4 linked regions of the Homo sapiens genome follow. The protein of the gene in region 2 purifies or fractionates together with the protein of the main gene of each other region. This does not show direct contact. Each region holds a gene or a part of one and is shown on either strand. Other genes may lie near its edges. The genes, in order: KDM5C, SCML4, FBXO11 and UBR1.

Region 1 (7,027 bases), on a different chromosome or scaffold from region 2:
GTGGGAGCCTAGAGAAGGAAGCACTCAAAGCAGCTGGAGATAAGGAGGGATGGCCTTGAGAAAGGACTTCATTGAAAAGGTAACACCTGAAACTGGCTGAAACCTGAAGGCAAAACAAAACATGGCAACAGGGCAGAGCACAGGGGGAATCTCTTCCAGGCTGAAGAAACAACATGTGCAAAGGATAGGGATGAAAGAGCATACTGCATCTTACGGGGAAAAATGAACATACCTACAAGGAGTTCAGTGTGGCTATAGCAGAGGAGTGAGGTGGGCAGTGCTGGGGGATGAGGCTAGAGGTCAGCAGGGACTGGATCATGCATGGTAATGAGGAGCTTAGCCTTTATCCTGAAGCAATGGAGAGTGAGACTCCTTCTCTGGACCCTTCCAGCACTTCATGTTGACAGCACTTGATCACCCTTTCTTGCTCTTTGTTCCATATGAGTTGGCTTTGTTTCCCCAATTAAGTGAGCTACCTGAGGGCAGGGCCCATGGAGGCCCGCTTTTGTGGTTAATGCGAACTGGTCCAGTGCCATGCAGGGGAATGCTTATTGAAGGGACAAGAAGCAGAGCATTAAGAAGTCAGGGCTGGGTCCTTACAAACTGGGCATTGCTGTGGTTCCTCCGTAGCCTCATGGTCATCTTGGTGCAGGGTTCTGGGCTGTGACTCAGCTCCTCCTTGCTCTCCAGGAAGGTCTTAGGCGATGTTGACTCCACCTTCACATCCCCACCTAACTCCTCCTTCACCACTACTGTGGGGGGACACTCAGGCCCCTCCTTATCTGGGAGAGAGAAAAATGGCTGTAAACACAGGTCTAGGACACTTAGGGCCCTGACTTTTCTCCCCAGGTGAGGCCACCCCAGCCTGTTAGGCCTTACCTTTCTTCCGCAGAGTCTTGTCTTTGGCCATGAGGCCCAGGCCCATCATCTTGGGGCCTGCCCCATAGATCTGTAGCTTTTTCAGCTCTGGATTCTTCTCAATGTCTTCCTCTGTGGGTTCCGGCTGGAAGGAAAGAAGGAAATGAATCAAGACTGCTATCTGGGGCAGACTGTCCCATCCTAAAAGAACAGTAACTCGGACTACATATCACCTGATCTCATGCTGAGGGCTGAGGCACAGATGGGCTAAGCCAAGAACTCAGAGTTGCTTTTTGGAGACTGAGGGTAGGTGAGCTGCCCCCTCGGCCCTCTCTCAGAAAGGAATAAAAGACAGGATATCTCAGTTTTCCCAACTGTAAAATGAGAATATTACCTCCTCCCTTATAGTTATGAGGGGGGTTAGGGACAATACATATGAAAAAGCTAACAGTGTTTGGCATTACCAACAAATGGCAGTCTAATAGGATCTGCTAAATTACATGCTTCGATGAGCCCAGGGACAGTGTCCATCTTGTTCTCTATTGTATTCCCAGTGCCAAGAATGCCTGGCACATAAGCTTCTGCCTGAAGACATAGCTACAAGGAGCTGGGAACAGTGGTACACACCTGTAGTCCTAGCTACTCCAGAGGCTGAGGTGAGAGGATCACTCAAGCCTAGGAGTTCAAGATTATAGTGCATTATGATCAAGCCTGTGAATAGCCACTGTACTCCAGTCTGGGCGACATAGCAAGACCCTATGCCTCAAAACAAAACAAAACAAAAGATACAGGTATAAAGAGAAAGAAGAGTTCTACTTCTATGAGCAGAGTAAGTCCGGAAAGGAACAAAACAGGCAAGAAGAGCAGACATACAAAAGAGGTTGCACAAACAGATCAAGACCCAGCTCAGCAGCTCAGCTGAGAGGGGAGAAAAAAGCAAGAGTGAAGCCAGAGAGAGGCACACTAATGCTCAGAAGAACTCAGAGAACAAAAGAAGGGATAATGGAACAGGGAACACAGCCTTAGCCAGAAGGAAGGAGAGGACTCCCTCCACCTCAAAGCTCTAAGTTCGAAGAAGGGGAGTACTCACATCAGGCTGCAGTCTCTTGGCCCGCCGGCCATAGCTGTTGAACTTGGAAGGCTGCACAGACTGTCGTAGGGGGATGCTGTGGGGTTTGTATTCCTTGTCCTTCTCCTCATTATCAAATGGACGTGTGTTACACTGCTGGGGACAGGTAAGGGGTAAGGGTCAGGACATGGACTCCAGCCCGCAAAAGCAATAACTTCCCTCTACCCTCACCCAATGGCATCCAAAGCTGTGGTCCACTCACCTGACCCACACCAACAGCCCCTGTTCCACTGGTCTTTAGCACTGACACCAGCACACATTTTGGGAATTCTCAGTACCTTTGCTTGTATCACTCCTCCCTTCCAGTCACTTCCTCCACCAACCATCTCCCCAACTAAATCAGACGCCATCTCTTCCCACACCTTCTAGCCCAAGCTCTCCCTTCTCTGATTTCTCTATCAGTTAAAACTTTGTCACATAACAAATAAGCTAGCCGTACAGATAACTCCAGGACCTCTGACCCTGAGCAGTGTAGAAAGAGAATAAGCATCACTAGGAAAGAGCAGAGTCCAACTCCCAGGTCTCCAGTCCACTAAACCAGTTTCATTAAGAGCAAGTGTGGAAATCTGTGCTGAAGGGTAAAGCCGCACCCTGCCCCACTGTGACATCCTTACCACAAGGTTGGCTCCAGACTGGTACATTTCATAGGGATAAACAATGCGTTCGTAGTGGGAGCGTAGCAAGGAGCCAATATTTTTGCCTGGTGGATAGTTGAGGCGCTGGGCTACCCGAGCCCACCGACGGTCCTTGCAGATAGCTTCATAACCACCTTCCTCCACCACAATCTGAAAAAACAAGTAGGAAAAGACATGGATGTGCCACGTGTATTTATATGTGAGGGAGTAGGCCTGTAGAAAGGGCAAAAGGGCAATGAGGGCAACTCTAGTCCCTCACTTCACTGGGGGCTATCCCCTTATCCCAACCTCAAATTGCAGCAAAAGATTCCAAGATGTTCTGATGACAGCTTGTGTGCTACCAAGCTGTGCCCCTTCCATTGCAGCCTAAAGATCTAATATCCAAACTAAGGGGGCCCCCAGAGTATCAAGGATATTGGGGTTTGGTGGGAGGGGTGCTTGACAAAAACCTGTTCTTACTTTGCTGAGACTGTAGAGGTCCAAGATCCGCCGTTCTACATTGGGAATCTTTAAGGAGGAGCCCTGGATTTCCCAGAATTTGGCAATCTGGTCCAAGTAGTTCAGTTTCACTCTCGTCTGGGCCTGAAGAAGAAATGGCTCAAAGAGGCTGGCCACCCCCTCCCACTGACCACTATCTTTGGGTCCAGTCTTAGGGGAGAACAGAGGAATACAGCACTCCACACTTTCACTACCCAGGGTTTCTCCCAATGAACCGGATCCCAGACTCTAGGCAGTGCTTAGCCCCACCTCACTCTCATTTCTTTCGTTTTTGTTTTTTTGAGACGGTCTTGCTCTGTCGCCCAAGCTGGAATGGAGTGGTGCAATCACGGCTGACTGTAGACTTGACCTCCTGGGCTCAAGTGATCCTCCTGCCTCAGCCTCCTGAGTAGCTGGAACTATAGGCGCACGCCACCACGCCCGGCTAATTTTGTATTTTTTGTAGCAATGAAGTTTCACCATGTTACCAGGCTGGTCTCAAACTCCTAAGCTCAAGCAATCCATCCACTTCGGCCTCCCAAAGAGCTGGGATCACAGGCACAAGCCACTGCACCACTGCACCCAGCCACCTCTCTCTCATTTGTCACCTTCCAGTCAATCAGAGAAGCCCAAGGTCCCAATAGAGAGGGTCACAACTGCCAAAAGCTTTAGATATGTCCTCTAATCTCCCTGACAAGGTCATGTGAGTATTATCATCTCCTATACAGATGAGGAAACAGAGGCTCAGAGGAGTTAGGACACACAGCAAGCATCAAGATATTTTGGTGCCAAATAATTTGAGCTTTGGCTCTCCCTCTGCTACTGATTTGCTATGCTGCCTTGAGCAAATCAGTTCCACTGTGGACTCCTTTTTCCTTTTACTAATAATTATAAAAGGAAAATAACTGCACAGTCCACTTACCCCAGAGGGGTAGACTTAATGAGGGGACCAGTGAAGATCCTCTGCAGATTTCAGAATTATATCTAAGCTCTAGGCATGTTTCAGAGAAAGCAAGCTCCAAAAAGGCACATGCACCTCCTTATGTACCACCAAACTTGTTCCATGGTGGCTAAAGGGTGAAAGTGCATGCTATAACTATAGACAGAATGGCCTAGAACTAAGAGATGGTATATCAGAGTAGCACTAGCACCTGGCCAACCCAGGACCCAATGTGGGCCAAGGAGACTAGAAACAAGATATGTATGATGCTTCCCTGAAATCTCAGTAACCAAGAAGGACTCCCATAGGCCCCAAGTCTACAACCTCCTCACTCCAGTCAGAGAGCCTGGTTCTTGGAAGAACTAGATAGTCATTACCATTCACTACCTTGCCCTGATCCCATTAGGGGGAACAAAGACAGCTCTTTCCATTTCATAGTTGAGAAAAACTAAGGTCTATTTGTAGAAAGAAACAACCTACAGTTCCTTGGCTGTGAGAACTCTCAAAGGGCAAGGAAGTGCTCCTTCAACCTCAGCCCCTTAGCTTTCTGAAGTTGGCCTCATCCCTGCTCCTTCTTATTAGTCAGCACTCCCTCTACAGAAAACCTGCCCTTGTGTCATGCTAGGCAACATCTTGCCCAAGCTGTACCCCTATAAACCTGACAAGATATATTTTTCTTTTCTGAGATGGGGTCTTGCTATGTTGCCCAAACTGGTCTTGAACTCCTGAGCTCAAGCAATCCTCCCACCTTAGCTTCCCAAAATGTTAATAGTGCCGAGGCTGAGGAACTCTGGTCTAGAACACAAGTGAACTTTTAGGGTATAAGTATTCAGCTGGGCCTGGGCCTAATGCCCCACCCCTTGGACATCTATTAAGATTTGTGGGTACATAATAATGGGGGAGGGAGTGGCAACATATGCCTAACCTAGAGCTGCCATGGAAAACTCCAGGATCTTACGTGGAACTGGCTTTAGGGAACCTAATCTCACTACCCCAGGGCATTCTCAAGCAGGAAAAACCCCACCTGTCCATGAAAAGGGCCTGGACTTCCTGTACAGAACAAAAGGGAGAAGGAAAATCCTACCTGCCTGACCCCTGGCCAAGTCTCTAACCATTCCAGCCTCCACAGAGCCCAGTTCTTGTGTTGTTCTGCCCATCTACCCAAACTCCCACCTTACCAAGCACCCATGGAAGCAAAGTAGAAAGCACAGGGCTGTGGATGAATTGGATATATGAAGCCACATTCAGCTGGCCAAGGAAGAAGGGGTATCAGCCAGTTCCATAATTCCTTTTTGTTGACTCAGCTAGGGTAGGCTAGTTTACAGGGGAGTTTCAGAAGTAGCAAACCTTTGTGAGAAAGGGATATATGTCCCCAGCCTTTGGGCTATCAAATCACAAATGCTAAATGCCCCTGGCTCTTGGTTATATTTAGAGCTCTAAAGCTTCTTCCACGCCCTGGGCACACTAAAGTAATGCAATTTCACAGAAGAGAGAATAAAGGCCTAGCTAGGTAAAGTACCTCAGCCAGAGAAACTATAAGGGAAGTGGGATTAGAACTCAGGTATACATTCTCCCAACCCCACCACCAGCTCCTAGTCTTCTCACCTCTAGCTCATTCAGCCTCTGGATTCGGGGGGTAAACCTGAAGTTGTCCACTTCCACAGCAAAGGGTGGCTGCCAGTCCTGAGAGGGTAGAGAGGGGAAAGGGACTTGAGTTATCTCAGCATAGTGTAAGACCGGAAGTCACCAAAAGCAGCTCGGAATCCCACTGGCACCTTCCCAAACCTCTAGCCACTCCAGACCCTTTAACCTGCAAACATCCTACCCAACCACCCACCCCCACCTCCCCCCAGAACTCACAAGAGTCTAGCAGCCCCTCAAGTCTGCACCCAAGGCCCCATGCACATGCCCTAGGAAACTTCTCCTGAGTCCCACCCAACAGTACAGTGCCAGGATTTCAAGAAATTAAGAGATGGAGCCTCTGTTTTGTTGACCCTAAACCTTCTCCACACCCACATTAATTCCTTATCCCCTAGGCACGTGCTGTAGGACACACAGGCCTGGGAGTACTGGAAAGCACACAGGATCTAGAGTCAGAAGATATGGGTTCATGTTCTAGATCCGCTACTTACTAGCTATGAGATTTTAGCTTTCTGAACCTGTTTTCTCATCTGTGAGGTGGGAATATGAACTCTAGCCCTGGCTTCCTTGCCAGACCAATATGGAAAATTAAAACTAGTTTTCAAATGAAAATGTTATTCAAAGGAGTCACCGTTATGACCTGACATCTAAGGCTGACCACACCTCACAATACACATGCAGGGTAGCTCAGGTCCGATTGTGGCAGGACGTAAAGGTTTGGGCCTTTAATGTTTGTTCTCTCAGTTTAAAGGGCCTGAGATAGACACTGCAGGGAAGAGCAAGGAACAGGGAGCAAGTATGTGTATCACTCACCCAGTCTGGAAGGCTTCCTGTAGATCCTCTCTCATACACCTGCCTGGTACAGGAAGAGGCAGGGGAGGAAGCCCCAGGGGGTGGGGGTAAGTGCTGGGATGCCTGACTGTGGTGGCAAAGAATGGGAGGATTTGGGGAGGGAAGTCAGGGAAAGATCATGAAAGTGGGAGACACTCTGCTCTGCCAAGTTGGAGCTTGCTGTGTCCTGCCCAAAGGTCAGCTGTGAAGAACCCCCTCTCCAACACCCCTTTCCAACCTCCTATGCAGACCTCTCCTTCCCAGAGCCCTGGCTCCTGCTGGGGTGGTGAAATCAACCTAAAGTAACCTAAACCAATGTTCTCATTTTATAAATGGGGAAAGTGAGGCTCAGAGAAAAAAAGTGAAATTTCCAAAATTACATGCTGAGTTAGTGGTGGGGCCAAGAACCCACGTCTTCTGACCTCTGATCCAAGGCCTTTGCACTACACCAGACATCAATGTTCATACATACATGCATACACGTGGGCGGGGGGGAGAGACAGTGAAAGAGAAGAA
Region 2 (7,221 bases):
TCTCCTCACCTGTCTGCTTTTGAAGGCAATGAAAACATTAAAAAATGTGTAAATCTAAAACTAGCCTTTTGAGAGATGGCAGAATTAAGAAATAAGATGTCTAGGGAGGCATTGTTTAAAAGTTCCTTCTTAGAAACATCAGATGTGCCCACCAAAAGAAAGAAGCTTGTGTGATCACACCAAAGGCAACTGCTTTCACAAACTTCATCCACAAAATGTTAGACAAGATTTTACGCTCCATGATAATCAGATTAAAAGAGGGTCTTTTCTCATCTCCTTTCCCTTCTTTCCCATTCCATCCCCACATAAAATCTGAGGGCTCAGGGGAAGAATGACACTGGAGATGCTTGGTATCCTAAGGCTCCCAGCCCAATGAGGGGTAGTGTCACCTGCCACGCTCTTCAGGACTTGTGGAGTGGGATGGGCACATCCCGGCTCCCTGGCATCTACCCATGTGATATTGAGGTTTCCGAGGGCAGGGACTTGGGGAGGAAAATTGTCCTGCAGATCCCTAACAGGGCCCCTGTGAGGGCTTTCAAGCTCCAGCCACCACCTCTGCCTGGACCAAAAGTTCTTTAAGGTGCGTGTCATAAAGGATGTGTGGACACATGTGTGATGTGTCCTCAGGCCACACAAAATTGTAAACAGACCTACGAAGCACTCTAACATTTAAGCCCCCAGACTCCCAGAAAGGTTATTCCTCTCCGAGCATTCCTTGTTATGATTTCAGGGAACTTCAGTTATGTTTCCTTAAAAGTATTGAAGTATTTGAGATCCAAAATTGAGATTAAAAATACATAAACAGCAGAGATGATTTTCTCATCATTTCAAATTTTAAAAATTAAAAAAGTCTATCTTTGTACTTTGGGGTAGTGCTTGAATTTTTTAATAGGAAAGTGTTACTGAGTATTTTTTTAAAGTCAATATTGTTTTGAACTCTCATTATAAAAGTTCTTGCAGCAAGTGACAGTATTTGGGTCTGGCTTGTTTTCTGTGGGCTGAGCTGCTTAGCTTACCTGCTGCTTGCTAGAGGAGACAGCCTTTCACCCTCACCCCCAGGAGTCAAGAACCAGAAAGTGAAACTGCTTCTGCTGATTTCCCTCGCCTCGAAAACACACCACCAAAAGCAAAGAAATGATGAAAAGCAACTTACTCGTTTCGCTTATTGTTTTCTTGTCTTTCTATTACCGTTCATTTACTCTTTTCTTTTTTTCTTTTCTTTTTTTTTTTTTGCAGCAAAATAAAAGTAATTTTGGGGACACAGGGAAGAAATGTAAACATGTTATACATGAAAGAACTGGATTTTTGTGGGCTTTGCACTTTTGTTATAATTCCACAAATGAAGCAAACTGATGAATTTACCAAAATATTTCAGAGCTCATCTACGTACACAATTTAAAGAGCTAAAGAAAACACATTCATATTTTTTAAAAATTCTGTCAAAAAGCCTGTTTAAAAGTTATAGTTTGTGAAGCCACCAATTTCCCTAAAACTGAAGATTCTACATTAACCTTTTGAGTTTAGACGATCACGCAGTACCGATTTTCTAGGTAATCTTCACCCAGCTGCTGTTGCTCAAACAGCCCCTCATTTTATCAGACTAGTTCTACCAAGCAACACAAAAAATGCTCCACACAAATATTATACCCCCCAGATAGTTTAACACACTAAGAATTCCTTTGTAGTTATTTTTATGCTTTCACTCCAGATATTCTATTTTGCTTTAAAAAAAAAAAAGTGGAGAAAAAAAGCAGCTATATCCCTCATTCTTCAAAAATGGTTCCTCTGGTTGAAAAGAAAGAAAAACAGCATATAACAAATACCCTGATTCTGAAGTGCCTGGATTACTTTCTCAAGTACTGTAGTGTCTGAGATCAGTAAAAAACCACTTTCTCAGAAAGCCACTGATTGTCTAACCCTCATGAGTACCGTCATGGAATCTAGAGACAACACGAGGAGACACCTCTCGTTCACGATCACAGATAGTGGAAAGAACTTTGACTCAAGCACCTCAACTCAGCAAAACAGCTCAGCAGCCTGCACCCTGGCCTCATCCACCGCTCCTGTCCAGCCAGCAATCAACCTGGAGAGGACCCCTCATGCTTTGGGAGGAGCACGTGGAAGCTGGTTCAAGTCACAGTGCTCCACCTGGGAAGGAGGTGATTTTGAGCTTGGGAAAACTGCCGCTAATACTCCATAGTCACCAGTTTTTTTCCCAAAAAACGAATTAAAACCAGAAACTAGCAGTAAATATTATTCTTATTTATGCCTCATAAATTAGGAAAAACCAGCACAAAGACATGTGAAATATTCTACCTGGGATATTTGAAATAAAATTAAATGGGAAAAAAAACACTTTTACATGTTCATAACATACCAATTTTAATAACCAAATTTTAGGTAAATATTTTTATCCCAAGACATAGTACAATTTTTTTAAAATTAAAAAGCAAAACAAAGCAAAATTATCGTGAAGGGAAAAAATAACTAACCGGTTACTTGAGTTCACATTTGGAAAAAAATAACTTTCTAGGTATTTAAATGCAGAGTTAAAGAGTAATGAACATGTATATAGCCCAAATTTATAAACTATATAATTCAATGTTACATTTTCCCCTCTGAGATCTGGTTAATAAATTAAATGCTGTACTTTGCATATGAGGAACTAAAGTTTACCTACTGGACTCAGTGGTTTTAGTGCAGGACACTCTTGTGCGTTGCCATAGAGGTAGGCATGCAACCCAGAAAAAACTGAAACAGGTAACCTGTCATGCTGACAGTTACAAGAGAAAGATCCCGTGTCAACGGCACGCCTCCAATTGTGCATCTCCCTTACCTACAGCTTGTTCACCAGAGCCCTGAGCAGGTTGTTTACCAGGTCGGGAGTGTTGACTCAGAAGACAGATGACTTTCAGCACATGCAAACCGAGTATTGCAAAAGCTATCTTCCACCCGTGTTAGTAGCTCACAGTTAGTCTCCAGCAGCCCTGCGCTCCAGCTGCAAACATCTCATTAGACTAATGCATTCAGCACAGGCAGAAAACTCGATTTACCATAGCTACAGCAATGAATTTCCATTACGATGACAGCTTCAACCACATCATGTCCGGAAAACCAGCCAACCACTGGCTTTTAAAGAACACACACATTTTACATGCAGAAAACGAGGCCTCTGTGTGTGTGTGTGTGTGTGTGTGTGTGTGTGTGTGTGTGTGTGTGTGTGTGTGTTTTGTGTTTCCTTCCTCTTAGCAGCCTAAGAGAAATGTGCAGTGTAGCTTTTTGTCGACATGAGCTGCAAGGTAATGACACTTCTGCTTCTTTGGTAGTTACATCCTTGTAATAACCTGAATTATGTCACAATGGTTAGAATGGGTGTTTCCAACATTTCAGTTTTCATTACCCCTCCTCTGTTGCCATAGAAACCAGACTGTAACATCGTCTCTTTGTCCCAATCCTGCAGCAGTGTGGGCCAACACCAGGCTTATAAGACACTGGTGATCTGACAGAGTGAATGTTTGACTTTGGACAAATAAAACAAAAAGAAATATTACAATAGCATCATTGTTCAGGAGACCCTGTGTGATTCCCAGAGCAGTGTGCCTATCCAGGTGTGTGCACACACCATGGTTGTACATATTAAATCAGCGGCTGCCCACAACATATGTGTACAGTTCATTAAAGCCGGCCCTGACTTTGGCTCCAGGCCTGTATGTGTGTGTGTGTAAGCATCTCTACCCACCTCAACGTGGTGGGACCTGCACAGGATAGAAACAGGGCAAGAGTGACTATTCATTCCCATGCCCCATTGCATTTTCTGCAGCAAATCAATATATATCGGCGAAGGGATCTTTTCTTTTCCTTTCTTTTTGTAAAGTGGAGCAGGGCTCCCCATTGCCCATTTCATCCACTCTGGGATATTGGCATATTCACAGGTATTTCCTACAAGATGAAACATCCATTCTACAAACATGTGGCTTACTCCTAGGGATGAGCAGCAAACAAATTTAGCCGGGACTAAATATCAACCAGGGCTAACGAAGGCTTAGGCCACAACCTGGCCAGTTACTGAGAGTGAAAAAAACTGCAATGGACAACTTGAGGTTTCTCTAAATATATGTGTAGAGTCACATTAGAAGTACATAAGAAATCTCTCCTCTGAAATTTATTATGAAAATATAAAAAATTGTTTTAAGTCAAAGCCTTGTAATTAATTGAGCAAGAAGAAATTCACTACTTTAGTTCATTTAATCATCAAATTTTGTTGTTTTGTATGGGAAAAGGCAGGTTTGGTAGTTTGCATTTTCATTTCATATAAGTTGATTTCACTAAAGAAGGAGGAAGAGGAGAAGAAAAGAAAATAAGATGGATGGGCCAGGTGCAGTGGCTCATGCCTGTAATCCCAGCACTTTGGGAGGCCAAGGCGGGTGGATCACGAGGTCAGGAGATCGAGACCATCCTGTGAATGGTGAAACCCCGTCTCTACTAAAAATACAAAAAATTAGCTGGGCGTGGTGGCGGGCGCCTGTAGTCCCAGCTACTTGGGAGGCTGAGGAGGGAGAATGGCGTGAACCCGGGAGGCGGAGCTCACAGTGAGCCGATACCGTGCCACTGCACTCCAGCCTGGGTGACAGAGCGAGACTCCATCTCAAAAAAAAAAAAAAAAAAAAGAAAATAAGATGGATGGGCTAGGTGTGGTGGCTCATGCCTGTAATCCCAGCATTTTGGGACTCCTGGACTTGAGGTTAGGAGTTCGAGACCAGACTGGCCAACATGGTGAAACCCCATCTCTACTAAAAATACAAAAATTAGCCAGGCTTGGTGGCGCTTGCCTGTAATCCCAGCTACTCGGGAGGCTGAGGCAGGAGAATCGCTTGAACCTGGGAGGGAGAGGTTGCAGTGAGCTGAGATCACGCCATTGCACTCCAGCTTGGGTGACAAGAGTGAAATTCCATCTCAAAAAAAAAGAAAAAAGAAAGAAAAAGAAAAGAAGAAAAGAAAAGAAAAGAAAGAAAAGAAAAAGAAGAAAAGAAAAGGAAAGAAAAGGAAAGAAGATGGATGATTTAAGTTTGGACAGCATCTCTGTCCCAGCGACAGCGGTTATTATACTCACACCCGTGGCCTCACACATGCCACACTACACTGAGCTTAAAGCACCTGGAATGGGCTGAGACATTAGACCAATTTTCACTCTAAAATGTTTCTTAGGATTAAAAAAAATAACATTTCTTAAGTAATCAGAAATAATCTCCAAGTCCTGTAAAAGAAGTAAAAGGGTTGGCAGAATCTACCCATAAGAAAGGAGTTGCTGGTTTTCCTACCCAGCTCTGTGAGGGTTTCTCACTCTGATCCTCAGGCCCAACCTCCTTGCCTCCTCCCAGATGGGCTACTGTTGTCCTTGTCCTCAAGGTGGGTGCATGTGGGAAGCACCCATTGTCATCTAACAGGTCAACTTGGTAATAAAGCCTAAAATTGAAATCAACAAAAGCTGGATTGCTTGGGCGCGGTGGCTCACGCCTGTAATCCCAGCACTTTGGGAGGCTGAGGTGGGCAGATCACAAGGTCAGGAGATCGAGACCATCCTGGCTAACACGGTGAAACCCCGTCTCTACTAAAAATACAAAAAATTAGCTGGGAGTGGTGGCAGGCGCCTGTAGTCCCAGCTACTTGGGAGGCTGAGGCAGGAGAATGGTGTGAACCCGGGAGGCGGAGCTTGCAGTGAGCCGAGATCACGCCACTGCACTACAGCCTGGGCGACAGAGCGAGACTCCGTCTCAAAAAATATATATATTTTTTATATATATGTATATATTTAAGTAAACAATATTTATTTACTTAAATATGTTATTCAAAATATTTGATATTTAATAAATTATTCATTAAATTATGTAATTTAATAAATTTAATAAATATGTAAATATATTTATTTAAATATATCTTTATATTTTTATTTAAATATATTTACATTTTTATTTAAATATATATTTACATTTTTATTTAAATATATATTTGTTTTTTACTTAAATGTATATTTTTATTTAAATATATCTTTATATTTTTTACTTAAATTTTTTTATTTAAATATATCTGTATATACACACATTTATTAAAATATATATATTTAAACTTACTGGGATTTCTTTCTTCATGCAACCAGGAACATAGCTTTTAATAACTTAAATCAATATTTTAAAAAATCCTAAATGTTTTTAATTCCAAGAAAAATTTAAGTTAAACATGTAAGAAAAAAGAAATTTGATGGGATGACTGGTATTAGCTGAGGGACCTGCTAAGAAGAAAAGTGACCGCTCTGAGCTAGCATCTCTCTAAGTCTTGTACATCCCTGTCCCATGAAAAGGGTGCTTAGGTTGTGCCACGTTGTTAATTTTCTTTGCACTGTGGTTACATTTCTGTCTCAGACCACAAGCAGCATGTTCCACTCTCTCCACACGAGTGCTACTGGGCTGGTGGTTAGCAGGAGGCAACCAGAGGGAGCAAGTTAATTTGGGGGCGTCCCAAATGCAAATCTACTTAGAGTAGCCTCCATTTGAAGAGTAATCCTTCTGTCAGCTGCTGGTAAAGACACCGTTCACATTGAAAATGGCCTTTGTCCTAAAGAGTTGTGTTTTCCAACACAAGCATCCGATCGAGAGGATTCTGTCTTGGACTGGCAGTCAGTGCTACCGCCGAAACAACCTTTGTTATAACAGTGATAGCTAACATTTACTGAAGAATTATGTGTGAAGCCCTTCCCATTTTGTATCCCATTTATGACAATCCTATGAAGTAGGTATTATGATACCATTCCCATCTTACAGATAAGGAAACTGAGACTTAGGGATGTTAAATAACTTGCCCAAGGACACACAGCTTAGAAGTGGTAGACACAGGTCTGACCCAGGCAGTCTGTGCCCAAAGATACTCTAATTAATCATTCCACCTCATGGATCCTGGCACTGCCACTTGTTCCAGCCCTACCACTAACCCAATGACATGGGTGAAATCATTGACTTTCTATAACACGGGACAAGGAAATAAGGGACTAGATCATCTTTGTGGTCACTTATGGCTCTGACATTTCACAAGCCTAAGAACTGCTTTATCTCTAACTCAAAACATCGGTCTGCTGAAACAGGATGACGCTTTGGGTTGGAGGAGTGCTTAGTTGTGATTATGGATATGGCCATAATTACAAAGGGGCAAAAAGTGTCCTTTCTCTCATTA
Region 3 (7,027 bases), on a different chromosome or scaffold from region 2:
TCATGAAGATGGGGAGAATAGATTAGAGCAAATGTTTGTCTGGTGATTTTATTACTTTCTAAATCGAGGCCACTGTTGGAAATAAATTTAAATAGAGGTCTCTTCTCTTCTTGAGCTTCTGTTTCCAGTGCTGCTGCTGGAAACAGAATGGTTTCCACAAGAAACCATTTTTTGTTTTTGTTTCCACAAGAAACCATTTTTTAATATGCCGTTGCATTTTATATTCATAGTATTTATAGTTAAATGTTATTAGAAGTAATACTGTGCATGGATTTGAATATAGCAAAGGCTGATGATGAAACATAGTTAACTGATAGTGAATATTAGTCCCACTACTCAGTACTAATGTTTTTAGTAAGTTCCCCCTCCATAAAGATACCCATCTGTTGAAATCGAATAAAGGTAATATTCTTTAAAATATCTTCTCCACAGCACCTGGGAAAGTGGCAGACAAAGTTATAATTGAAAACACTAGAGATTCAACCTTCGTTTTTATGGAAGGCTCTGAAGATGCTTATGTTGGATATATGACAATAAGGGTAAGACATGTTAAGATTTAAAATACACATTGAAATCATAAAGGCAGTAATTGTTTATTTCAAACAAAATTTTTACTTTTCAGTTTAACCCTGATGACAAATCTGCACAACACCACAATGCACACCACTGCTTAGAGATTACAGTAAATTGTAGCCCTATTATTGATCACTGTATCATCCGAAGTACATGTACAGGTTAGTGTTTTCTTTATATTTTACAATAAAATTTTGAGTCACTGTATGTTGCCCAGTAGGTTTTTACATAAATAAATAATTTTTCTACAGTTGGTTCTGCAGTATGTGTTAGTGGTCAAGGAGCATGTCCCACCATCAAGCACTGTAACATCAGTGACTGTGAAAATGTTGGACTATATATAACAGATCATGCACAGGTATTTTTTAATTTTGTGTGGTTTTTTTCTTTTTAGAAAATGTTTAAAAGCTCTACTGATGTTTGTTTCTGATAACTTGTTGTAGGGAATATATGAGGATAATGAAATTTCCAATAATGCGTTAGCTGGGATTTGGGTTAAAAATCATGGAAACCCAATTATTAGACGGAATCATATTCATCATGGACGTGATGTTGGTGTGTTCACATTTGATCATGGCATGGTAAGAACACTTATTTTTAATAGAAAAACGGACTTCTGTATCAGTTAAATTCCAAGTATGTTTCAGCATTATTTTCTCATCACCAAATTATCTGAATTGAAGAGTATAGGTTTAAAAGCAATTTCAGCATTATTTTTTAAAATTAATATGAAATATTTATTCTGTAAATTTATGCATCAGACATATCCATGTAGAGGTGATAGCGTTCTTAGGCAATATATGTGATCTTTGAGGGGAGTAAGGTATAACTCGTTAATTAAGTCTCAAATGTGTGTTCATAAAAGCCACCCAAAAGCTTTCTGTTTTAAAGAAAATTCCTGTATCCTCCAGTTTAATAAATCAAAATTTCCAAGGATGGGGCTTAGAATATGTATTTTTAATAAACAACATAAGTGAATCTAACACAGTTTGTAGAGTATACTTTGAGAAATAATGGTTTCATTGTTATTTTGCTTTTCATTTAATTCCTCTTGAAAATTTTAAACTGGCAGAACTTTAATAGGAGATACATTGATAAAATACCAATTTTAAAACCATTATGCAGCAGTTAATATTAGGCATCCTTATGGAATATACTGTGTTTTAAGTATTACCTTATAGTTTTACATAATTTTCTAGAGACATGACTTTTTGAGCTCTGAGATCACCATTTCAAAATAATGTTTTGAATGTCTTTTCAGATTTTTTTTCATTTAATGTCAAATTTTCCTTGAGGTAATTTTCAAGTCCTAATACAGCATTGGTAAAATTTTTTGTTGCGGAGTCCAAGATGGGAGAGAGGGTCACCACATTGTAGCAAATAGGATTATGGTGAGGTTTTGTTGCCTATTATACAATATTAAGCAATCCTGGGAATGTTGGATTCATCTATACAAAGAAATTTTTTTATTTTCATTTTTCTTTTTTTTTTTTTTTTTTTTTCTTTTTGAGACCGAGTTTCACCCTTGTTGCCCAGGCTAGAGTGCAATGGCAATGGTGTGATCTTGGCTCACTGCAACCTCCACCTCCTGGTTCAAGCGATTCTCATGTCTCAGCCTTCCAAGTAGCTGGGATTACAGGCATGCACCACCACGCCTGCCTAATTTTGTATTTTTAGTAGAAACAGGGTTTCACCATGTTGGTCAGGCTGGGCTTGAACTCCTGGCCTCAAGTGATTCACCTGCCTCGGCCTCCCAAAGTCCTGGGATTACAGGCATGAGCCACTGCGCCTGGCCAAGGCAGAGCTCTTTTTTTAAACTAAACTAGACCATGGCCGGGTGCAGTGGCTCACACCTGTAATCCCAGCACTTTGGGAGGCCAAGGCAGTTGGATCGCTTGGGCTCAGGAGTTCAAAACCAGCCTGGACAACATGGTGAAACTCTGTCTCTACAAAAAATACAAAAATTAGCTGGGCATGGTGGCTCACACCTGTAGTCCCAGCTACTTGGGGGCTGAGACAGGAGGATCACTTGAGCCCAGGAGACGGAGGTTGCAGTGAGCCAAGATGTAAGATGTGTGCCTTTGCATGGGATTTCAGGCGTGAGCCACCACACCTGGCCAAGTTCATCATTTTTGAAAGACCTCTGGTGATGGGATGGTCCCTTATTAAAGTTCACCATAGTAAGTTACTCCTCATCACACACACACTCCTTATACCATTTTAAAGAATAGATTTGGGCTTGTAAATATCACAGCATTTTTAAAAATAAGTCTAGACAATGCTATAGATAGATATTTCCATTAAGGATTAATGAGATTTATACATTTTAAGATTTATAAAGTATTTCAATCTATCTCCACCCCATCATTTTTATTTTTATTTTGCAAAGGTTTAAAATATTTGCATTCCTACAGTTATTGGTCTATATTTATTCTTTATTTATTTATCATTAGTTCTTTTATCATCGTTTCTCCATTCTTGAATTTAAATTTTGATTCATTCTTGGTATGGCTAGGTTTTGTCATCCAGCCATTTTTTGTTTGTTTTTTTTAAAGAACGCCTTATGGATATTGTAGCTTGAATTCTTGCCATGCGAGAATCCCTATCCATTGCCTTTTAACTTAGCTGAGTTTCTTTCTTTCCCTCACGATTCTGTAGACATTTTTCTATTGTAGCATTGAGCATGGCTGAGAACTCTGAGATCACATTGGGTTTTTTTCTTTCTTCTTTGCTTGAAAGATTGCTCTTCTACCTCAGTATCCATATTTTGGCTTTTGCTGATGTATTGTTTTACTATTTTTCTGTTCCATATGTTCCTTTCTTTAGAAACTTAGCTATCTTTCTGGTTATTTATATTGCTATGTTCTGTTCTGTTTAGTGTTGTGTGAGTTCCTCAAATCTGTGTTCCTTACCATGTCTCCGTGGTTTTGTTTTTCTGCTGCTATTTTGCTTCCAGTGTGGGTGTTGCCTTTAATTTTTACATTTTTTTAATGAAATATTTCTAACGTACACTGAAGTAGAGAGAATAGTGTAATGACTCTCCAGGTACCTATTGTCTGCCTTCAACAACTATCATTTCATGGCCAATTTTGTTTAATGTATACCTCATACGTTTTACTACCTTTTTTACACTCTGGATTATTTTGAAGTAAATACCAGACTTCATCATCTCTTGTAAATATTTTACCATGTGTCTTTAAAAGATGGGTGTTTTTTTTTTCTTTCACATAACCACAGTGCTAATCCACTCCTCAATAATTAGGAATAATTCCTTAATATCATCAAATTTTCTCTTAATGTTCACAGTTCTCCAATTGTCTTTTGTTTGTTTAATACTCAGTTCAGTGCAGAGTTGTTACTTTTGTAAAATAAGATTAAAATGTCATAGCAGGCCAGGTGTGGTGGCTCATGCCTATAATCCTAGCACTTTGGGAGGCCGAGCAGGCAGATCACCTGAGGTCAGGAATTCGAGAACAGCCTGGCCAACATGGTGAAACCCTGTCTCTACTAGAAATACATAAATTAGCCGGGTGTGTTGGTGCACGCCTCAAGTCCCAGCTACTCGAGAGGCTAAGGCAAGAGAATCGCTTGAATCCAGGAGGCAGAGGTTGCAGTGAGCCGAGATCGCGCCACTGCACTCCAGCCTGGGCGACAGAGCAAGACTCTGTCTCAAAAAATAAATAAATAAATAAATAAAATGTCATAGCAGTGCCAAATAACTATAAAATTTTTTGAGGCCGGGTGCAGTGGGTCACGCCTGTAATCCTAACACTTTGGGAGGACAAGGTAGGCAGATCCCTTGAGCCCAGGAGTTCAAGACCAGCCTGGCCAACACTGCGAAACACTGCCTCGTGGTGGCGTGTGCCTGTAATCCCAGCCTCTCAGGAGGTTGAGGCATGAGAATCACTTGAAGTGGGGAGGTGGGAGGTGGAGGTTGCAGTGACCCAAGATCATGCCACTGCACTCCAGCCTGGGCGACAGAGGAGTGAGACTCTGTCAAAAAAATAAAAAAATTCATGGCATATTCATGCCATTAGATTTCATCACTTTAGTTAGAAGATAATAATAAGCTAAGCTTATTATAGCCTTTAGTTACTTGGGGACAACTACACTTCATTGAAAGTCTAAGGTACTAACATTGGTTAGTTCCCAGCACCCTCCTCTTTCTTACCCAGATTTCACAGTATTTGGTAAGTGTTTTTATAGATTAGAGTTGTGGAAGTTTATTTCTATGAAGATAGCATTTTTCTCTCTTTTTTAATCTGGAGAGTTTCTTGTGAAACTCTTGAATGCCTTTTATTTTGTCTTTTTTTTTTTTTTGAGACAAGAGTCTCACTCTGTCACCCAGGCTGGAGTGCAGTGGTGCAATCGCGGCTCACTGCAACCTCCACCTTCCAGGCTTCAAGCAATTCTTGTGTCTCAGTCTCCCGAGTAGGTGGGAGTACAGATGCCTGCCAGCACGCACAGCTAACTTTTGTGTTTTTAGTACAGACAGGGTTTTACCATGTTGGCCAGGCTGGTCTAGAACTCCTGACTTCAAGAGCTCCACCGCGCCTGGCCTACTTTGTCATATTTAATAAAGAATGTTTTACTTCAAAAAATTTATACATGTTGGAACTTTTGTGGTTTGCATTAAAAGACAAAGCAGAGGCTGGGCACAGTGGCTCACACCTGTAATCCCAGCACTTCGGGAGGTTGAGGCAGGAGGACTGCATGAACCCAGGAGTTCAAGATCAACCTGAGCAAGACAGACCCTATCTCTACTAAAGAAATATTCTAAAAATTAGCTGGGCATGGTGGCACACGCCTATAATCCTAGCTACTTGGAAGGCTGAGGCAAGAGGATTGATTGAGCCCAGAAGTTCAAGGTTGTAATGACCTGTGATAGCTCCAGCTTGGGTGACAGGGAGATTCCCGTCTTCTTAAAAAATTTTTTTCAGCCGGGCTTGGTAGCTCTGTAATCGCAGCACTTTGGGAGGCTGAGGCAGGTGGATCACTTGAGGCCAGGAGTTCGAGACCAGCCTGGCTAACTTGGCAAAACCCCGTCTCTACTAAAAATACAATAATTAGCTGGGCATGGTGGCACCCACCTGTAATCCCAGCTACTTTGGAGGCTGAGGCACGAAAATTGCTTGAACCTGGGATTTGGAGGTTGCAATGAACCAAGATCATACCACTGCGCTCCAGCCTAGGAGACAGTGAAACTCCACCTCAAAAAAAAAAAAAAATCTAATTTCTTACAGTTCTGTATTATTGATTTATTTTGTACTAGAGGTATTGCTTAACAAAATAGTTGCATTCTATTAAAATACGTCTTGAAGCAGGCCGGGTTCAGTGGCTCATGCCTATAATCCCAGCACTTCGGGAAGCCGAGGCGAGCAGATCACTTGAGGTCAGGAGTTCCAGACCATCCTGGCCAACATAGTGAAACCCCATCTCTACTAAAAATACAAAAATTAGCTGGGCGTGGTGGCTCACACCAAAAGTCCCAGCTCCTCGGGAGGCTGAGGCAGGAGAATCACTTGAACCCAGGAGGTAGAGGTTGCAGTGAGCCGAAAGTGCGCCACTGCGCTCCAGCCTGGGCGACAGACACTCTGTCTCAAAAACAAAAACAAACAAACAAAAAAATCTTGAAGCAAAATTACATTAACTGAATCCATAATAAAAATAAGTTTTCTTGCAAAATTATAAAACTATAAGTCAATCAATCTTTGTCATTTCTAAAGGTAGTAAAATCATTGTTGTGCCAATGTAGAGGCTTCTCATTTTAAGGTCGTTGAGAAAAGAAAACTTTTTGCTGCTTTATTTTCTTGAAAGTTACTCTGAAACAAAAGATACAGATTATAAACTCCATATTTGATGGAATTAGGTGACATATTTAATCCTTAACCTAATTTATTAATACAATGTGGTAAATGACTGCATGCCTGTGACCAGGGCAGCCAACCAGATTGGAGCAGGTTAAAGCTCCAATAAAGCTGTTCAGAAAGATAAATTGGTAAACCTAATGTAAATGTAAATGTATTAAGAGGTGATTTATAGGAGATGATGCAGGAGAATCGCTTGAACTTGGGAGGCAGAGGTTGCAGTGAGCCAAGATTGGGCCACTGCACTCCATCCTGGGCAACAGAGTGAGACTCTGTGTCAAAAAAATAAATAAAAAGAAGAGGTGATTTGGACAACTAGCAACAAGTTTAGGATAGAGTTGTCACTAGAAAGCTAAGCAAAGGAGAAAAAAATCCAAAAAATTGTGCAGCAAAGAAGTCATATTTTATGGCTCAACTCTGAATAGCACACTAATCTAACCAAAATTAAGGTTAAACTACACTGAAAGGATACAATGTGTGAGTATATATTGTGGGGGATAGAGAGGTAGGAGAGCTAAATTCTGCTGTCCCATAATAGAAGTCAGTGGATAATACCTAAAACTGGAAAGTGAAGACTAAGTACAGTG
Region 4 (6,669 bases), on a different chromosome or scaffold from region 2:
GGATGGTCTTGATCTCCTGACCTCGTGATCCCCCCACTTTGGCCTCCCAAAGTCATGCGATTACAGGCTTGAGCCACTGCGCCCGGCCAGAACATTCCTATTATTGCAAAACTCTTCTGGATACTGCTGCTCTAGACAGCTGTCTCCATATTAGAGCGTGCATACCCAAAAGGATGCAGATTGGATTGGAAGATATTTAAATATCTATTTCTATTTTTAACTGATTTTTAAATCTCCTTTTAAAGCTATGTTTTATAATTTGCATGATGTATTAGTAAAGCACTGCATATAGAATATAAAATATGTGTTATGTGTTTATATTCTATTTGGTATGCATGCTAAAAACTATTTATTGATGGAGTATATGGCTAAAAAGTTTGGAGACCCATGTATACTAAACACCTATGTCTTTTAAAACATTTGCCTCGGCTGACAAAGGTTTCAACTGGAGAGTCTTCCTAGCAGATTTTTATACTTCAAACCCAAATCCCCAAACATGAGAAGTCCCTATTTTTCTTTTTAAATATACACATATATTTTATTTTAAAAAGCACAAGAACATTATACAAGTTTTAAATTTACATTTTTGCAATAAAAGTTATCAATATATGCATTATTTGTATAACTTCATCATGGATGGAATTTGAATCAGTGGTATAAACATGTTGCAGTCACTAAATATAGATCATCATCACAGTGAACCAAAATGCATAGTTGTTATGAAATGACAAATGACCACTAAAAGGTGAACTCACAGCCCATACACCAATATAATAAATTAATTATACAGATATATTTTTCTTCACCATATCATTAAAATTCTCACTAGCCCCTTACCAAACATTAGAAAAACACAGTTCTGGAGCCATCCTGTTGAACCAGTGCCTTCACATACTACACTAAAGAAAATAAAGTGACTCAGTTGCTTGTTTGTAAGTAAACTTCATAAGCATAATTGTTTGCAATGATTAAGGTAAATCACTAGGACATTTGAACATAATGAGAAATCCCTGGGGCTTGGGGCAGCACTGAGACATACGCTCATCTACAGTGCAAAAATCTGAATCAATCTCAATCAGTGGAACGCAATATGAAATGGGTTCTTTGGCAGTAAAGGTCTGGCTGGCCATTGCCAGACAGTCCCTCTGTCCTCTTGAGAGCCTAACTCCAGAATTTATTAAGTTAATATAAAAAGGACTAAAAATAAAGTCAGTTTATCTTTGCTAAATTGGGGCCCATCTATTAGGGTAGAAGTCAGTATCTTCTGTTTCCTATTCTAGCCCAGATTTCCCAGTCAAACAATCCACTCAATACAATTATATAAGAAACAAACACACATGTTCAAATACTTTCATCATTCTGGCAAATCTGACAAACTGAATACTGAATTTCCTGATCCTTACCTGTTATTGTTACAAATTGTTCACTAGACATGTATCTATTTATCCAGATACCTTCTGAATTGTAATTATTCAAGTAGAAAATCATGATTGTGATTCTGACGCCTGCTCATGCCAATCCCTTACTGCAAAATCCACTTTTCTTTACATAAAAGTACCAAAAAAATCTAGCCCCAAATGTGCATCACTAATCACTTAGCAAATATATTTTACTTGCTTGCCTTTGCTGAGCAAAAAGAAGGTAGGAAAACATTTACACACATATGTGAGACACTAATAGCCAAGGGCAAAATAAGATACAGTCTTTGAATGCATCTTTCAAGGTTCTAACATTACCCCAGAAACAACGTAAGTTAAAATGGAAGGTTTCCATTTATCTTCTGCTGTTTTATATCACAATCTCTTGATACAAAAAACAAAAGCCAGGAACCAAGAAGTCTATGCACAAATTCAGGAGAGCTCTATTATTTATAAACAAGATGGCTCAACCACAGCATGTTATAACAGGACACAGACTATTGATCACATGGCTTTTTTGGTGGTTTGTACTAGTCATAAAACCAGAGTTTATGAAAAGGTTGCACACAGACAACATCAAGGATTTGTCTTTTACAAAGATATAGAAGACTGCGGAATTGGTTTAAATCTGATTGTTCTAATTTACAGTTGTCATGATCCACTCATTGCGAGAATTTTCTCATCTTCATTCTACAGTTTTTACATCAGAATTACAAGAGGTTTCTGAGAGTCAAACAGGATGGTGCCACAATCTCCTTGCAGAATGAGATTTGCCTTTGGAAAATGTCAAGTATTATTTCAAAACTCAACAAAGCTACTGGTAGTCAGAGGTGAGAACTGCAAGCTCTTTGTACCGTCAGGAATGAATAACAAATACATTACCCTAACTTTTCTTGAGGCCTACAGTGAGAAAAAAGCTTTTCCATATTGGCAGAAATCATCCTCTGTCCACATAGAGATTGAGTTTAATTTGTGGTGATAGCAGCAGGTGGCACATTAGGGGTATTTCCTTAAAAGAGAAATAATAAAAAATTTATTTTTGGAATCTTTCCCAAGTATATTGCATGGTTTCTGCAATTCTTCTTTAACTGCAAGGAAGACTATCACAGATTATTAGAATTTTGTCAGTGATCCAATGTCAGTTGAACTAAACTTGGGGGGAAAACACCAAATACAAAATTGCAGAAGAGTTAACCAACATATAAAATGTCTACAACTGTTTGACGTGACTTCATCTACCAAGTGGATGAAATAAAATGAAATGAGACAAATTATGAAGGGGAATAAATTCCTGGAAATACTAGCACATAAAACAGATTGATCTATGTCCTTTTTTCCTGTGAAGCATATGTTTGCTAATTGAAAGCAATACTCCATTAAGAAATATTTTATTGATGTAAGTGAACCTGGACATGGAGCAAAAGACCCTCCAATACTTTCCCAGCCCTCAGAAAGTTTTCCATAATTTTGAATCAGCCTTTACTACTGTCGTCATTTGTGATTGTCTTGAGGCAGAGTTGGAGCTCACAGTAACTGCCAGTTGAATCCAAATAACATCTGATTAGTCTCTTGGCTCCTAGCAATCTCTTCTATAATGCAGTGTTGTTGCCAGACCAAATGGAGCTTCCGATACCGCTCACGAGATAAATGAAGGGGGTTGCCCCTCCTTTAGGGAAAAAAGAAAAAACAACATGTAAGTTTGAATCTAGTAACTGCCACATCTTTATTGTCTAAATTAGTATGCACTCTTGAGATGTTCCTGGAGCCGGGAGGACTCACCAGCACAGGGCTTAAAAAGGGATATTTTCCCTTCACCATTGATCACTAAGAACTTGACAGGCTACTTAGCTAATAAAGCAGAAATGTACTCCTTGACCATTCATAAAATAGGTCAGGTATATTATGGCATTATGGGACCTCACTTAAATGGTCACTGAGGTTTATAACTTGAAGCAGCACTATTCTTTTTTGGTGGTTAGCTTGAATAGCTTTTTGGCTTCATATTGTTATCTAGCTTCAATTTATGATCTTTGCACAGTAGAGGTTAGGCCTGACGTATAACACTAGGCCCTAAAATTATATTTTGCTACTCAGAGATATTTGGTTGTAACTGTCCTTACGATACAAAAAACTGGCTGGTTATTAGCAAATAATTTAATAAAATAATTATACTTCAATTCTAGAGTTGCACAGTTTTTAACACTGTATAACAGCTAATCCAAAATGACTTAAGTCTGGCTGTTGCCAGTAACGGAGAACTGTGAGATCCTAATTCCTTGAGACATTCAAGTCTCTCAGCTGGTTGGGGATTTTTTTTGTTTTTGTTTTTGTTTTTTGGAGATGGAGTTTCGCTCTTTTTGCCCAGGCTGGAGTGCCGTGGTACGATCACGGCTCAGGGCAACCTCTGCCTTCCAGTTTCAAGCAATTCTCCTGCCTCAGCCTCCAGAGTAGCTGGGATTACAGGTGCCCGCCACGATACCTGGCTAATTGTTTTTGTATTTTTAGTAGAGACGGGGTTTCACAATGTTGGCCAGGCTAGTCTCGAACTCCTGACCTCGTGATCCGCCCGCCTCGGCCTCCCAAAGTGCTGGGATTACAGGCGTGAACCACCGCGGCCGCCTGGTTGGGGATTTTTAAACTGCCAAATTAATGTTAAAACTCTGCTTTGTACCCTTGTGGAACAACTAAGATTCTCAGTCATTAACTACTTTCACCACTCTGCTTTTCTCCCTAAACCTAAAGACAGGTCAAATGTCATCCCAATAAAAAGAAAGCTCTGTGTGATCCAAGGTCCCAAGCCCCATCTAATAAGTGTATTCTTTCTGAGCAATATTTCAAAGGAACAAAATTTCAGTGAACCAAAAAGAGTTTATTGTAAGGAGGTCTAATCTTTATCTATATGTACTTTTGAGATCACTGTCAGTCTCCTCATTTTCATAAGTCATCAGTAGGACCCCAGTTCCTACCACCAGGGAAGGATACAGAAAAGTTCAGGATTCTAAATATTTTGTTAATGCTCAGAAGGAAAGAAGGCTGATATAGCTGGCTAATAAAAAGTCTCAGTTGGGTGCAGTGGCTCATGCCTGTAATCCCAGCACTTTGGGAGTCCAAGGTGGGCAGATCAACTGAGGTCAGGAGTTCGAGACCAGTCTGGCCAACACAGTAAAACCCCGTCACTACTAAAAATACAAAAAAAATTAGCCGGGTGTGGTGGTGCATGTCTGTAGTCCCAGCTACTTGGGAGGCTGAGGCAGGAGAATCGCTTGAACCCTGGAGGTAGACGTTGCAGTGAGCCGAGATCCAGCCTGGGTGACAGAGTGAGAGACTGTCTCAAAAAACAAAGAAAAAAAAAGTTTCAAGTATTGCAATGGAAACAATATCTCTAAAACAAACTTCATCACTGGACACTACAAACTTATACTATCAGTGTCAATCCTTTTAAGTAGTTCTGAAGAAAGGTTGATTACAAACAATAGAACACTGAAACATTAAGATGGCTGGTGTCTTTAAAAATTTTGGGGAAACACTACCTTCAAATTTTGGAGAAGTTGTTGAAAATTATGTGCTACAAGACAGGGATGCCCTCTCTCACCACTCCTATTCAACATAGTGTTGGAAGTTCTGGCCAGGGCAATTAGGCAGGAGAAGGAAATAAAGGGTATTCAATTAGGAAAAGAGGAAGTCAAATTGTCCCTGTTTGCAGATGACATGATTGTATATCTAGAAAACCCCATTGTCTCAGCCCAAAATCTCCTTAAGCTGATAAGCAACTTCAGCAAAGTCTCAGGATACAAAATCAATGTACAAAAATCACCAGCATTCTTATACACCAATAACAGACAAACAGAGAGCCAAATCATGAGTGAACTTCCATTCACAATTGCTTCAAAGAGAATAAAATACTTAGGAATCCAACTTACAAGGGACGTTTAGGACCTCTTCAAGGAGAACTACAAACCACTGCTCAATGAAATAAAAGAGGATACAAACAAATGGAAGAACATTCCACGCTCATGGGTAGGAAGAATCAGTATCGTGAAAATGGCCATACTGCCCAAGGTAATTTATAGATTCAATGCCATCCCCATCAAGCTACCAATGACTTTCTTCACAGAATTGGAAAAAACTACTTTAAAGTTCATATGGAACCAAAAAAGAGCCTGCATTGCCAAGTCAATCCTAAGCCAAAAGAACAAAGCTGGAGGCATCACGCTACCTGACTTCAAACCATACTACAAGGCTACAGTAACCAAAACAGCATGGTACTGGTACCAAAACAGAGATATAGATCAATGGAACAGAACAGAGCCCTCAGAAATAATGCTGCATATCTACATCTGATCTTTGACAAACCTGAGAAAAACAAGCAATGGGGAAAGGATTCCCTATTTAATAAATGGTGCTGGGAAAACTGGCTAGCCATATGTAGAAAGCTGAAACTGGACCCCTTCCTTACACCTTATACAAAAATTAATTCAAGATGGATTAAAGACTTAAACGTTAGACCTAAAACCATAAAAACCCTAGAAGAAAACCTAGGCATTACCATTCAGGACATAGGCATGGGCAAGGACTTCATGTCTAAAACCCCAAAAGTAATGGCAACAAAAGCCAAAATTGACAAATAGGATCTAATTAAACTAAAGAGCTTCTGCACATCAAAAGAAACTACCATCAGAGTGAACAGGCAACCTACAAAATGGGAGAAAATTTTCGCAACCTACTCATCTGACAAAGAGCTAATATCCAGAATCCACAATGAACTCAAACAAATTTACAAGAAACAAACAAACAACCCCATCAAAAAGTGGGCAAAGGACATGAACAGACACTTCTCAAAAGAAGACATTTATGCAGCCAAAAAACACATGAAAAAATACTCACCATCACTGGCCATCAGAGAAATGCAAATCAAAACCACAATGAGATACCACCTCACACTAGTTAGAATGGCAATCATTAAAAAGTCAGGAAACAGGTGCTGGAGAGGATGTGGAGAAATAGGAACACTTTTACACTGTTGGTGGGACTGTAAACTAGTTCAACCATTGTGGAAGTCAGTGTGGCGATTCCTCAAGGATCTAGAACTAGAAATACCATTTGACCCAGCCATCCCATTACTGGGTATATAACCAAAGGACTATAAATCATGCTGCTATAAAGACACATGCACACGTATGTTTATTGCGGGACTATTCACAATAGCAAAGACTTGGAACCAACCCAAATGTCCAACAACGATAGACTGGAT

Evidence for each region.
Region 1: the proteins of SCML4 (region 2) and KDM5C purify together in Homo sapiens (affinity purification with mass spectrometry; 3 studies listed by BioGRID and IntAct, with this or other methods). This does not show direct contact.
Region 3: the proteins of SCML4 (region 2) and FBXO11 purify together in Homo sapiens (affinity purification with mass spectrometry; 3 studies listed by BioGRID and IntAct, with this or other methods). This does not show direct contact.
Region 4: the proteins of SCML4 (region 2) and UBR1 purify together in Homo sapiens (affinity purification with mass spectrometry; 3 studies listed by BioGRID and IntAct, with this or other methods). This does not show direct contact.

Annotation. Positions count from the first base shown.
Region 1 is NC_000023.11:53,215,195-53,222,221, forward strand, and holds part of KDM5C (lysine-specific demethylase 5C), read right to left. Parts: intron 5,723-7,027; coding exon 5,645-5,722; intron 3,205-5,644; coding exon 3,082-3,204; intron 2,773-3,081; coding exon 2,602-2,772; intron 2,084-2,601; coding exon 1,949-2,083; intron 1,004-1,948; coding exon 880-1,003; intron 783-879; coding exon 601-782; intron 1-600. UniProt on the Homo sapiens protein: Histone demethylase that specifically demethylates 'Lys-4' of histone H3, thereby playing a central role in histone code. Does not demethylate histone H3 'Lys-9', H3 'Lys-27', H3 'Lys-36', H3 'Lys-79' or H4 'Lys-20'.
Region 2 is NC_000006.12:107,821,290-107,828,510, forward strand, and holds the start of SCML4 (sex comb on midleg-like protein 4), read right to left. Parts: upstream 3,025-7,221; 5' UTR 2,837-3,024; intron 1-2,836. UniProt on the Homo sapiens protein: Putative Polycomb group (PcG) protein. PcG proteins act by forming multiprotein complexes, which are required to maintain the transcriptionally repressive state of homeotic genes throughout development.
Region 3 is NC_000002.12:47,826,476-47,833,502, reverse strand, and holds part of FBXO11 (F-box only protein 11), read left to right. Parts: intron 1-432; coding exon 433-539; intron 540-622; coding exon 623-734; intron 735-824; coding exon 825-931; intron 932-1,016; coding exon 1,017-1,154; intron 1,155-7,027. UniProt on the Homo sapiens protein: Substrate recognition component of a SCF (SKP1-CUL1-F-box protein) E3 ubiquitin-protein ligase complex which mediates the ubiquitination and subsequent proteasomal degradation of target proteins, such as DTL/CDT2, BCL6, SNAI1 and PRDM1/BLIMP1.
Region 4 is NC_000015.10:42,942,387-42,949,055, forward strand, and holds the end of UBR1 (E3 ubiquitin-protein ligase UBR1), read right to left. Parts: intron 3,085-6,669; coding exon 2,943-3,084; 3' UTR 511-2,942; downstream 1-510. UniProt on the Homo sapiens protein: E3 ubiquitin-protein ligase which is a component of the N-end rule pathway. Recognizes and binds proteins bearing specific N-terminal residues that are destabilizing according to the N-end rule, leading to their ubiquitination and subsequent degradation.